Regions from separate parts of the Homo sapiens genome. Here region 1 is linked to region 2. Evidence: fine-mapped expression QTL. A gene starts in region 2. The other region holds a variant in brackets. All regions are shown on one strand. Distances are from middle to middle. Region 1 has its middle 39 kb from the start of WIPI2. Region 2 holds the start of WIPI2 (WD repeat domain, phosphoinositide interacting 2).

The links.
Region 1: its variant is fine-mapped to the expression of WIPI2 in whole blood (TOPMed, PIP above 0.99).

Annotation. Positions count from the first base shown.
Region 1 is chr7:5,148,940-5,154,316 of GRCh38, forward strand. No RefSeq gene overlaps it. Among named protein-coding and RNA genes, the nearest start is that of WIPI2, 39 kb to the right of the region's middle. The variant G/C (reference allele first, on the strand shown) is at 2,764.
Region 2 is chr7:5,186,749-5,192,123 of GRCh38, forward strand. It overlaps WIPI2 (WD repeat domain, phosphoinositide interacting 2), which reads left to right and starts at 3,485. Exons shown (of 13, transcript NM_015610.4): 1 at 3,485-3,745. The coding sequence starts at 3,672. RefSeq lists silencers at 467-596, 3,270-3,919, 3,930-3,979.

The DNA.
Region 1 (5,377 bases), 38 kb before region 2:
TTCCGCAAGGCCAACTGTGGGATTTGAGTATGGCAGATTTGGGTATGAGGGTGATATGGTTTGGGTCTGTGTCCCCGCCCAAATTTCATGTTAAATTATAATCCCCGGCTGGCCGCGCTGGCTCACACCTGTAATCCCAGCACTTTGGGAGGCCGAGGCAGGTGGATCACCTGAGGTCAGGAGTTCGAGACCACCCTGGCCAACATGATGAAACTCCGTCTCTACTAAAAAAACAAAGATTAGCCGGACATGGTGGTACATGCCTGTAATCCAAGCTACTTGGGAGGCTGAGGCAGGAGAACTGCTTGAAGCCGGGAGGCAGAGGCTGCAGTGAGCTGAGATTGCACCACTGCACTCCAGCCTGGGCAACAAAGCAAGACTCCATCTCAGGAAAAAAAAAAAAAAAAAAAATTATAATCCCCAGTGTTGGAGGTGGGTCTGGTGGGAGGCGATTGGATCATGGGGGTAGGTTTCCCCTTTCGTGCTGTACTCGTGAGAGTGAGTGACTTATCATGAGAGCTGGTTGTTTAAAAGTGTGCAGCACCTCCCGTCTTTCTCTCTCTTCCTCCTGCTCTGGCCATGTAAGACATTCCTGCTTCCCCTTTGCCTTCCGCCATGACTGTCAGTTTCCTGAGGCCTCCCCAGCCACGCTTCCTGTACAGGCTGCAGAACTGTGAGTCAATTAGACCTCTTTTCTTTATAAATTACCCAGTCTCAGGTAGTTCTTCATAGCAGTATGAGAATGAACTAATACAAAGGGGTTGTGTCCTGGAACCAATCCCCTCCAAATATGAAGGGCTGACTTTATTTTATTATGGTACAAAGGCTAGTACAGTGGCTCCCACCTGTAATCCCAGCACTTTGGGAGGCCAAGGTAGGAGGATCGCGTGAACCTGGGAGCTTGAGGCTGCAGTGAGCTATGATCACACCACTGCACTCCAACCTGACCAGCAGAGCGAGACCCTGTCTCAAAAAAAAAAAAAGTAATAATAGGCTGGGGGAGGGGGCTCATGCCTGTAATCCCAGCACTTTGAGAGGCCAAGGCGGGCGGACCACAAGGTCAGGAGTTCAAGACCAGCCTGGCCAACATGGTGAAACCCTGTCTCTACTAAAATACAAAAATTAGCTGGGTGTGGTGGCAGGCATCTGTAATCCCAGCTACTAGGAAAGCTGAGGCAGGAGAATTGCTTGAACCCAGGAGGCAGAGTTTGCAGTAAGGAGAGACAGCGCCACTGCACTCTAGCTTGGGCAACAAATTGAGACTCCCTCTCAAAAAAAAAAAAAAGAAAAGAAAAAGTAATAATAAATGGTTGAAAATGTTTTCCTTCCCAATAAATTCATGGTTGCTATGAAACAGTAGCAAAAAAAATTAAATTCCTATATCTATTTTTAGAGAGTTTTCCAATAATTTCTCTTTTATATTGATTAGTGTCACCAGAGATTTGTCTATCACTTGTTTATTTTTCCAAAGATAAAATCTTTATTATTTTTCCTATCTTCCCTAGTAAGAGAGAAAATAAAACTCTTACAGCTATCATCTTCTAATATCAAGATAACATGAAAACTCCTGTAAAATGAATGGGAAGGGGAATATTCCAACTCTAATTACAAAATGAGAGCTAAGAACGTATGCAACTATATTATTTAGGACATGGATAAAACTGCTGTAATAGAGCTCCCAAAATAAAAGTGCTCTAAAAATTACTGATAAAGCCGAACGTGGTGGCTCATATCTGTAATCCCAGCATTTTGGAAGGCTGAGGTGGGTGGATCACTTGAGGCCAGGAGTTCAAGACCAGCCTGGGCAACATGGTGAAACCCTGTCTCTACTAAAAAATACAAAAATTTGTCGGAAGTAGTGGCTCATGCCTGTAATCCAGCACTTTGGGAGGCCGAGGCAGGTGGATCCTGAGGTCAAGAGATCAAGACCACCCTGGCCAACACGGTGAAACCCCGTCTCTACTAAAAATGCAAAAATTAGCTGGGTGTGGTGGTGCGCACCTGTAGTCCCAGCTATTCAGGAGGCTGAGACAGGAGAATCGCTTGAACCCAGGAGGCAGAGGTTGCAGTGAGCCAAGATCACACCACTGCACTCCAGCCTGGCAAGAGAGCAAGACTCTGTCTCCAAAAAAAAAAAAAAAAAAATTTGCCAGGTGTGGTGGTGCACACCTGTCTGTAGTGCTAGCTACTTGGGAGGCTGAGGCAGAAGGATTGCTCGAACTCAGAAGGTGGAAGTTGCAGTGAGCCAAGATCATGCCACTAATCCACAGCCTGGGCAACAGAGTGAGACTATCTCAAAAAAAAAAAAAAATCACCAATGATTATTTCTCATTAAAAAAATCCATGTGACTCCGAAGGAGTCAGAAAACTAGACTCCTAAATGAGTGCTCTAGCTGGGCTTGGTGGTTCACACCTGTAATTCCAGCACTTTGGGAGCCTACGGTGGGAGGATCGATTGAGCCCAGTTCAAGACCAGCCTGGGCAACATGGCAAGACATCATCTCTAAAAAACTTTTTTTTTCTCACGCCTGTAATCCCAGCACTTTGGGAGGCCAAGACGGGTGGATCACGAGGTCAGGAGATCGAGACAATCCTGGCTAACACGGTGAAACCCCGTCTCTACTAAAAATACAAAAAATTAGCCGGGTGTGTTGGCAGGCGCCTGTAGTCCCAGCTACTCGGGACAATGGCGTGAATCCAAGAGGCGGAGCTTGCAGTGAGCCAAGATCGCGCCCCTGCACTCCAGCCTGGGCGACAGAGCAA[G/C]ACTCCATCTCAAACACAAACAAACAAACAAAAACACCCTTAGGTAATGATCACCAATGACTGCTGACATCTTTTTGAAAAAAAAAAAATAAGAAAACCAGACATCCTGTCCATCTATATGGCTGTACACGACATCACCTATGAGTAATCCTGGGGAAAAAAAAAAAAAAAAAACTTGAGTCTAAGCCTCTTGATCTAATCAACAAATTACAGGACATAAAAGGGCAGCAGAAAAATATGTCAAATGACACCACAATGAGACAATCTGCAAAATCCAGGCTGTAAGAAATTCTACACTTTTTTCTACAAATAAAATGCCAACAGAGAGAGGGACGGAGGAAAGGAAGAGAGGGAGAAGGAATCTATGGATCACAAGAGAATCAAGGAACATATCACTAGTGATATATGGATCCTATTATCTAAACAAGAGCTCACTGAGCTTTCCAATTCATGTGCTTCCTCTTGTTAACCGCACTGGCTCATTCCGGGTCTTCTGTGCCATCCTGCTTCCAGGTCTCCACTGGGAAAAAATAGCAACAGGAAAAATGGCATTTTATCAGGGCCATGTACTGGGAAGATGCTTAACACTGTCTCCATGGTTTGATATTTTATATATATAATATATAATGAATATATATAACATAAAAATATATATTTGTATGTAAAATATAAAAATATGGATATATAAAATATAAATATAAAATAGGCCAGGCATGGTGGCTCACGCCTGTAATCTCAGCACTTTGGAAGGCCAAGGTGGGTGGATCACCTGAGGTCAGGAGTTTGAGACCAGCCTGGCCAACATGGTGAAACCTCGTCTCTACTAAAAATAGAAAAATTACCTAGGTGTGGTGGCAGGTGCCTATAATCCCAGCTACTCTGGAGGCTGAGGCAGGAGACTCGCTTGACCCGGGAGGTGGAGGCTGCAGCGAGCTGAGATCATACCATTGCGCTCCAGCCTGGGTGACAGAGTAAGACTCTGTCTCAGAAAAAAATATATATAATTATATATATGTAATATAAAATGTTATTTATATGTAATATATTGCATAAATATATTTTATATGTAATATAAATATATTTTTATGTAATATAAAAATACATAAATGCAAAACTATTTATATATAAATTACAATATATTTTATATAATATGGTTTGTATTATATATTATATACTATATATTATATAAATATGTCTTTATAAAGATTTTTATATCATATAGTTCATATTATAAATATATAGTTTATATTATATATAATATGTAACAGATGATATCTTTTTTTTTTTTTGAGACAGAGCGTTGCTCTGTCACCCAGGCTGGAGTGCAGTGGCTCGATCTTGGCTCACTGCAAGCTCCGCCTCCCGGGTTCATGCCATTGTCCTGCCTCAGCCTCCCGAGTAGCTGGGACTACAGGCACCCGCCACCACGCCTGGCTAATTTTTTGTATTTTTAGTAGAGACGGGGTTTCATCATGTAAGCCAGGATGGTCTTGATCTCCTGACCTTGTGATCCACCCACCTCGGCCTCCCAAAGTGCTGGGATTACAGGCATGAGCCACTGCACCCGGTGACTTTTTTTTTTTTTTTTTTTTTTTTTTGAGACAGTCTCGCTCTGTCACCCAAGCTGGAGTGCACTGGGGCAATCTGGGCTCACTGCAGCCTCTGCCTCCCAGGTTCAAGTGATCTCCCCACCTCAGCCTCCCAAGTAGGTAGGATTACAGACATGTGTCACCATGCCTGGCTGATTTTTTGTTTTGTTTCTTTGAGACAGAGTCTCGCTCTGTCACCCAGGCTGGAGTGCAGTGGCCCAATCTTGGCTCATTGCAACCTCTGCCTCCCAGGTTCTGGTGATTTTCCTGCCTCAGCCTCCCAAATAGCTGGGACTACAGTCACATGCCACCATACCCAGCTGATTTTTGTAATTTTAGTAGACATGAGGTTTCACCATGTTGGCCAGGATGGTCTCAATCTCTTGACCTGGTGATCTGCCCACCTCGACCTCCCAAGGTACTGGGATTACAGGTGTGAGCCACCGTGCCTGGCCCTTTTTTAATATTTTTAATAGAGAAGGGGTTTCACCATGTTGGCCAGGCTGGTCTTGAACTTCTAACCTCGAGTGATCTGTGTCCTTCAGCCTCCCAAAGTGCTGGGATTATAGGCATGAGCCGTCACACTGGGCCTATAATACATATTATATATTATATATAAATAATATATTTTTATATTACAATGTTTTCCTTTTCAGAGGCAGGGTCTCACTCTGTTGCTGAGGCTGGAGTGCAGTGGTGTGGTCAAAGCTCACTGCAGCCTCAACTTTCTGGACTCAAGAGATCCTTCCACCCCAGCCTACCAAGTATCTGGGACTACAGGCGCACACCACCATGCCTGGCTAATTTTTGTATCTTTTGTAGAGGCAAGGTTTCACTCTGTTGCCCAGGCTGGTCTTGCATTCCGGGCTTCAAGCGATCCTCCTGCCTCAGACTCCCAAAGTGCTAGGACTGCGGGTGTGAGCCACCAAGATCAATTTCTTCATTCCCCCAAAAATAGAAGCCATGGAGGCTCCTGACTGCCTGGTGGCTGCCAATGATTTTTCACCAACAGACCCCTGCCCCTT
Region 2 (5,375 bases):
TAAAATAAATATATGTATCTCTAAATCTTGCCTTTTCTTCCTCTCTTAATGGTCTCTTGAAAATAGCCCATTCTTCTCAATGTTGATGAAGGCCAATCTCTCATTTTGTGGTTACTACTTTTTTTCTTTTGAGACAGAGTCTCGCTCTGTCACCCAGGCTGGAGTGCAGTGGTGCGATCTCAGCTCACTGCAACCTCCACCTCCCGGGTTCACGCCATTCTCCTGCCTCAGCCTCTTGAGTAGCTGGGACCACAGGCACCAGCCACCACACCCGGCTAATTTTTTGTATTTTTAGTAGAGACGGGGTTTCGCCATGTCAGCCAGGATGGTCTCGATCTCCTGACCTCGTGATCTGCCTGTCTTGGCCTCCCAACATGCTGGATTACAGGCGTGAGCCACCGCGCCCGGCCTGTGGTTACTACTTTTTAAAGAACTTGTTTTGTTTTGAGACAGGATCTTGCTCTGTCACCCAGGCTGGAGTGTAGTGGCGCGGTCATAGCTCACTGCAGGCTTGAACTCCCAGGCTCAAGCCATCCTCCCGCCTTAGCCTCTGAAGGAGCTGGGACCACAGGCGCACACCACCACGCCCAGCTAATTTTTGTATTTTTGTAGAGACCGGGTTTCCCCATGTTGCCTAGTCTGGTTTCAAACTCCTGGACTCAAGCAATCCGCCTGCCTCAGCCTCCCAAAGTGTTGGGATTACAGGCATGAGCCAACACATCCGCTTTAAAGTACCTGTTTAGACTACTTTGTTTATCCCAAAATCATGAAGGCATTCTCGTTTCCTTCTAGAAATTCTATTGTTTTTACCTCTCACATCTAGGACTGTAATCCATCTCAAATTAATTTTTGAATATGGTGTGAGGTAGGGGTACTTATTCCTTTTATTGAAAAGACCATCCTTTCCTCAATGATTTCCAATGCGTTCTTGACCCTATAATTAGAATTAACTTCTGTAAGCACTCATTAGATCGTTCCACTTTCCTGCCTGTCTTTAACGGCAGACCATTGCTCTTATGGACAATAATCAGATAATGGTCAGTTCCTTGCGTAACAATACGCAGCTTGATCTGGCCACCTCCTGTCTCTCCTGCCAAATCTTGCCTTGTGTCTGCCTTTCCACTCTGAACATAGAGTTCTTTGGACAGGTCACACCCTCATCCTCAAGCCCTTCCCATATAGAGTGTTTTCATGCCCTTAGACTAGTTACTCAAACTTCAGGTCTCATCTCTTCCAGGAGCCTTCTCAATAGCACAGTCCCTGTCCCTTAAATATAGGTTGTGTGACTTCTATATATGCATTCATGGTCAGGCACAGTGGCTCATGCCTGTAATCCCAGCACTTTGGGAGGCCGAGGCAGGCAGATTACCTGAGGTCGGAAGTTCGAGACCAGCGTGACCAACATGGAGAAATCCCGTCTCCACTAAACATACAAAAATTAACTGGGCGTGATGGTGCACACCTGTAATCCCAGCTACTCGGGAGGCTGAGGCAGGAGAATCACTTGAACCCGGAAGGTGGACGTTGCAGTGAGCCGAGATTGCGCCATCGCACTCCAGCCTGGTCAAGAAGGTGAAATTCCGTCTCAAAAAAAAAAAAAAAAAAAAAAAAAATATATATATATATATATATATATATATATTCGCTCATTGTACCCCCGAGTTTCTAATTATATTTATTTATTTTATTTTTTGAGATGGAGTCTCACTGTGTCGCCCAGGCTGGAGTGCAGTGGCATGATCTCGGCTCACTGCAGCCTTCACCTCCTGGGTTCAAGCAATTCTCCCATCTCAGTCTCCTGAGTAGCTGGGATTACAGGGCCGTGCCACCACAACTGGCTAATATTTTACATTTTTCCTAGAGACAGGGTTTCACCATGTTGGGCAGGCTAGTCTCAAACTCATGACCTCAGGTGATCCACCTGCCTCAGCCTCCCAAAGTGCTGGGGTTACAGGCGTGAGTCACCATGCCCAGCCTATTTTATTTTACTTTTTAGATGGAGTCTCACTCTGTCGTCCGTCCAGGCTGGAGTGCAGAGGTGCAATCTCGGCTCACTGCAACCTCCACCTGTGGGGCTCAAGCAATTCTCCCACCTCAGCCTCCCTAGTAGCTGAGATTACAGGTGCCCACCACCATACCCAGCTAACTTTTGTACTTTTAGTAGAGACGGGGTTTCACCATGTTAGCCAGGCTGGTCTGGAACTCCCGACCTCAGGTGATCCACCCGCCTCAGCCTCCCAAAGTGCTGGGATTACAGGTAAGAGCCACCACACCTGGCCTTCTATTTATATTTAAATATCTCCCCATTATAACTTCTCTGAGGGAAAGGAGGAGGCCTATTTAGTTCACATGAGAGGTGCGTCCTAAATACTGTTGAATGAATGAATAAATTTAAGGGACGATTCTGTCCCAGGAACCCAGACAGTATGGACCTTGGAGAAACAGGACGTTTCCAGTCTCAGATCTAGCACTTGGCTAATAATTATTTCTGAGCCTCGATTTTCAAATCTGTAAAATTAAGATATACTATTCTCTACTTAGGATTGTAATGGGCATCAAATAAGATAATGTGGCTGGGCACAGTGGCTCACATCTGTAATCCCAGTACTTTGGGAGGCCGAGGTGGGAGCATCACTTGAGGCCAGGAGTGCGAGACCAGCCTAGGCAACAGAGTAAGACCCCCCCCGCCCCCACCCCATCTCTACAAAAAACTTAAAAGTTAGCAGGGTGTGGTGGCATGCATTTGTGGTCCCAGCTACTTGGGAGGCTAAGGTGGGAGGATCGCTTGAGCCTGAGTTTGAGGCTGCAGTGAGCTGTGATTGAGCCTCTGCACTCCAGCCTAGGCAACAGAGCGAGACCTTGTCTTTCAAAATAATAAAATGATAAGGTAATGCGCAGAAGCATTCAGCACAGTGATTGGCACATGGAGGGCCCATTGGGGTGTTTTTGTTTTTGTTTTTGTTGTTGTTTGAGACAGAGTCTCGCTCTATGGCCCAGGCTGGATGGATTGCAGTGGCATGATCTCGGCTCACTGCAATCTCCGCCTCCTGGGTTCAAGCGATTATCTTGCCTCAGCCTCCCGAGTAGCTGGGATTACAGGCGTACACCACCAAGCCCGGCTAATTTTTCTTGTATTTTTAGTAGAGACGGGGTTTCACCATGTTGGCCAGGCTGGTCTCGAACTTCTGATCTTAGGTGATCCGCCCGCCTTGGCCTCCCAAAATGCTGGGATTACAGGCCACCGTGCCTGGCCATTGAGTGTTATTAAGAGGAGGGTACGCAGAAAACAGACTCCCGCCAGCTCTGCCCCATGCGCATGAGCGGCCGCCGCTCGCCCTCAGCCAGGCCCAGCGCGCCCCGACGCGTCCCCACGCCTGCGTGATCCACCGGAACCCAAGCCCAGGCAGGCGGTGAGAGGGCGGGGCCTCCGCAGTGCGACTGCGCCGCTCGAGGCCGTGCGTCGCGGGGGCGGGGCCGCGCAGGCGTACCGGGTGCCCCGGCTCTGGAGCATAAACAAGAGCGGGGACGGGATGAGGCGGCGGTTGATCCCAGGGTGGCGAGTGGCGGCGACCGAGGCGGCGAGCGGGGCCCGGCGCCGACCCTGAGTGCAGCCTGACCCGCCCTCGCGCGCGCGCCCTCCCCGGCCGGGCCCACTCGCCGCGCGCCCAGCCATGAACCTGGCGAGCCAGAGCGGGGAGGCCGGCGCCGGCCAGCTGCTCTTCGCCAACTTCAACCAGGACAACACGTAAGGCCGGGGTCGGGGGTCGGAGTCGGGGTGAGGCCAGGGTCGGACCCGGGCTAGGGGGAGGGCCTCGCTGCCAAGCTCGGCGGCGTCGCAGGCTCGGCCTCCCCGCGGGCCAAGGCGCGCAGAGGCGTCCCCAGGGGCGGGCCCGGGGCGTGCAGGGAGGGGCGCCCTCCAGGGAGACCCTCGGGTGCTGGCCTGGAGCTGCGGTCCCGGAGCGGGAGAGGTGGTGGAGAGGGGGCTGCTTTCACCCTCTTGCGGGGAGGCCCCCTGGCTTCAGACTTAACTACTTCTCGCAAAGTTGGGGCCGAACTTTGGGGCTTGACTTGTCTTGGCCGCCTGTGGAGCGCTGGGTGTGGGTCGCTTCCTCTCCTCTCGTCTCCTCTTCCCGCTGCTTGCTCAGCGTCTCCCACTCACTCTCCTTTGAATCAGGCCCTTCTCCTTGTCTTTTCATCGTCTTAAGACCCTTCTCTCTCTCTTGATTTTCTTTTCTTCGTTTCTCACTGTTTTTTTGTTTGTTTTTGTTTTTTGGGGTTTGTTTTGTTTTGAGACAGAGTCTTGCTCTGTTGCCCAGGCTGGAGTGCAGTGGTGCCATCTCAGCTCACTGCAACCTCCGCCTCCTGGGTTCAAGCGATTCTCCTGCCTCAGCCTCCCGAGTAGCTGAGACTACAGGCACGCGCCACTGTGCCCAGCTAACTTTTTTGTATTTGTAGTAGAGACAGGGTTTCACCATGTTGGTCAGGCTGGTCTCAAATTCCTGACCTCAAGTGATCCGCCCACCTCAGCCTCCCAAAGTGCTGGGATTACAGGTGTGAGCCACCGTGCGCGGCCCTCCCTGTTCTTTTTGGGACATCAACTTTGATGTCTTCTCCAGCAAGTAACAAACTTAGCAATAACCTTGGCATCTGACCTAGCTAGGGAGAAACTGAGCCAAGAGAGGCGTTACGGACCAGTGCCCCAGGAGTCTCAGAGCTCCAGCGGGTGGGTCATCCTCAGGGCAAGAGAAGGCCTTAATGCCAGCCCGTGCATTCGGAACGCTGTTTGTCCCCACTGATACGGGTTGGATGCTGCCTGGGAGGAGGACTTGTGGGGATGGTTAATAGATGAGCGAGCTTTCTGGAGAGAGAAGGGTGAGTTATGGGGTTGGCAGGGAGGAGAGCCATCTTGGAAGTGAGTAAGAGGAAGTGAGGAAAGAGAAGGAGTGGGGCATTTGGCATCTTACTAAGTCATTGGTTGAGTTGTTACTGGCTGAGTGGAATTAACATAGCAGAAGGTAAGATTCTTTAGGAAATTAAAAGTGAATTGTAGAATGGACAACACTCAGTGGGTGGTGTACAGCAGGCACTCAATAGCACCTCCCCAAAGCTGTGAAGACAGTCGCACAGTGGGACTGTATTGAGAGTCGGAAGGGGCAAATCACCTCATCCAACTACAGATGAGGAAATCCTTCCGAAAGGCTCCAAGCTGGTCTGGGTTTTGGAATTGGTTAATAGTGGAGCGGGGGCAGGAGTGGAATCTCGCCTCCTGAGCTCTCTTCCAATGTTCTTTCTGCTCTGCCATGCTGTTTTTTTTTCTGTTTACAGAGTAGAATTCTGAAGACAGTGAATTTAGAAATAATAGCATAACAACGTGT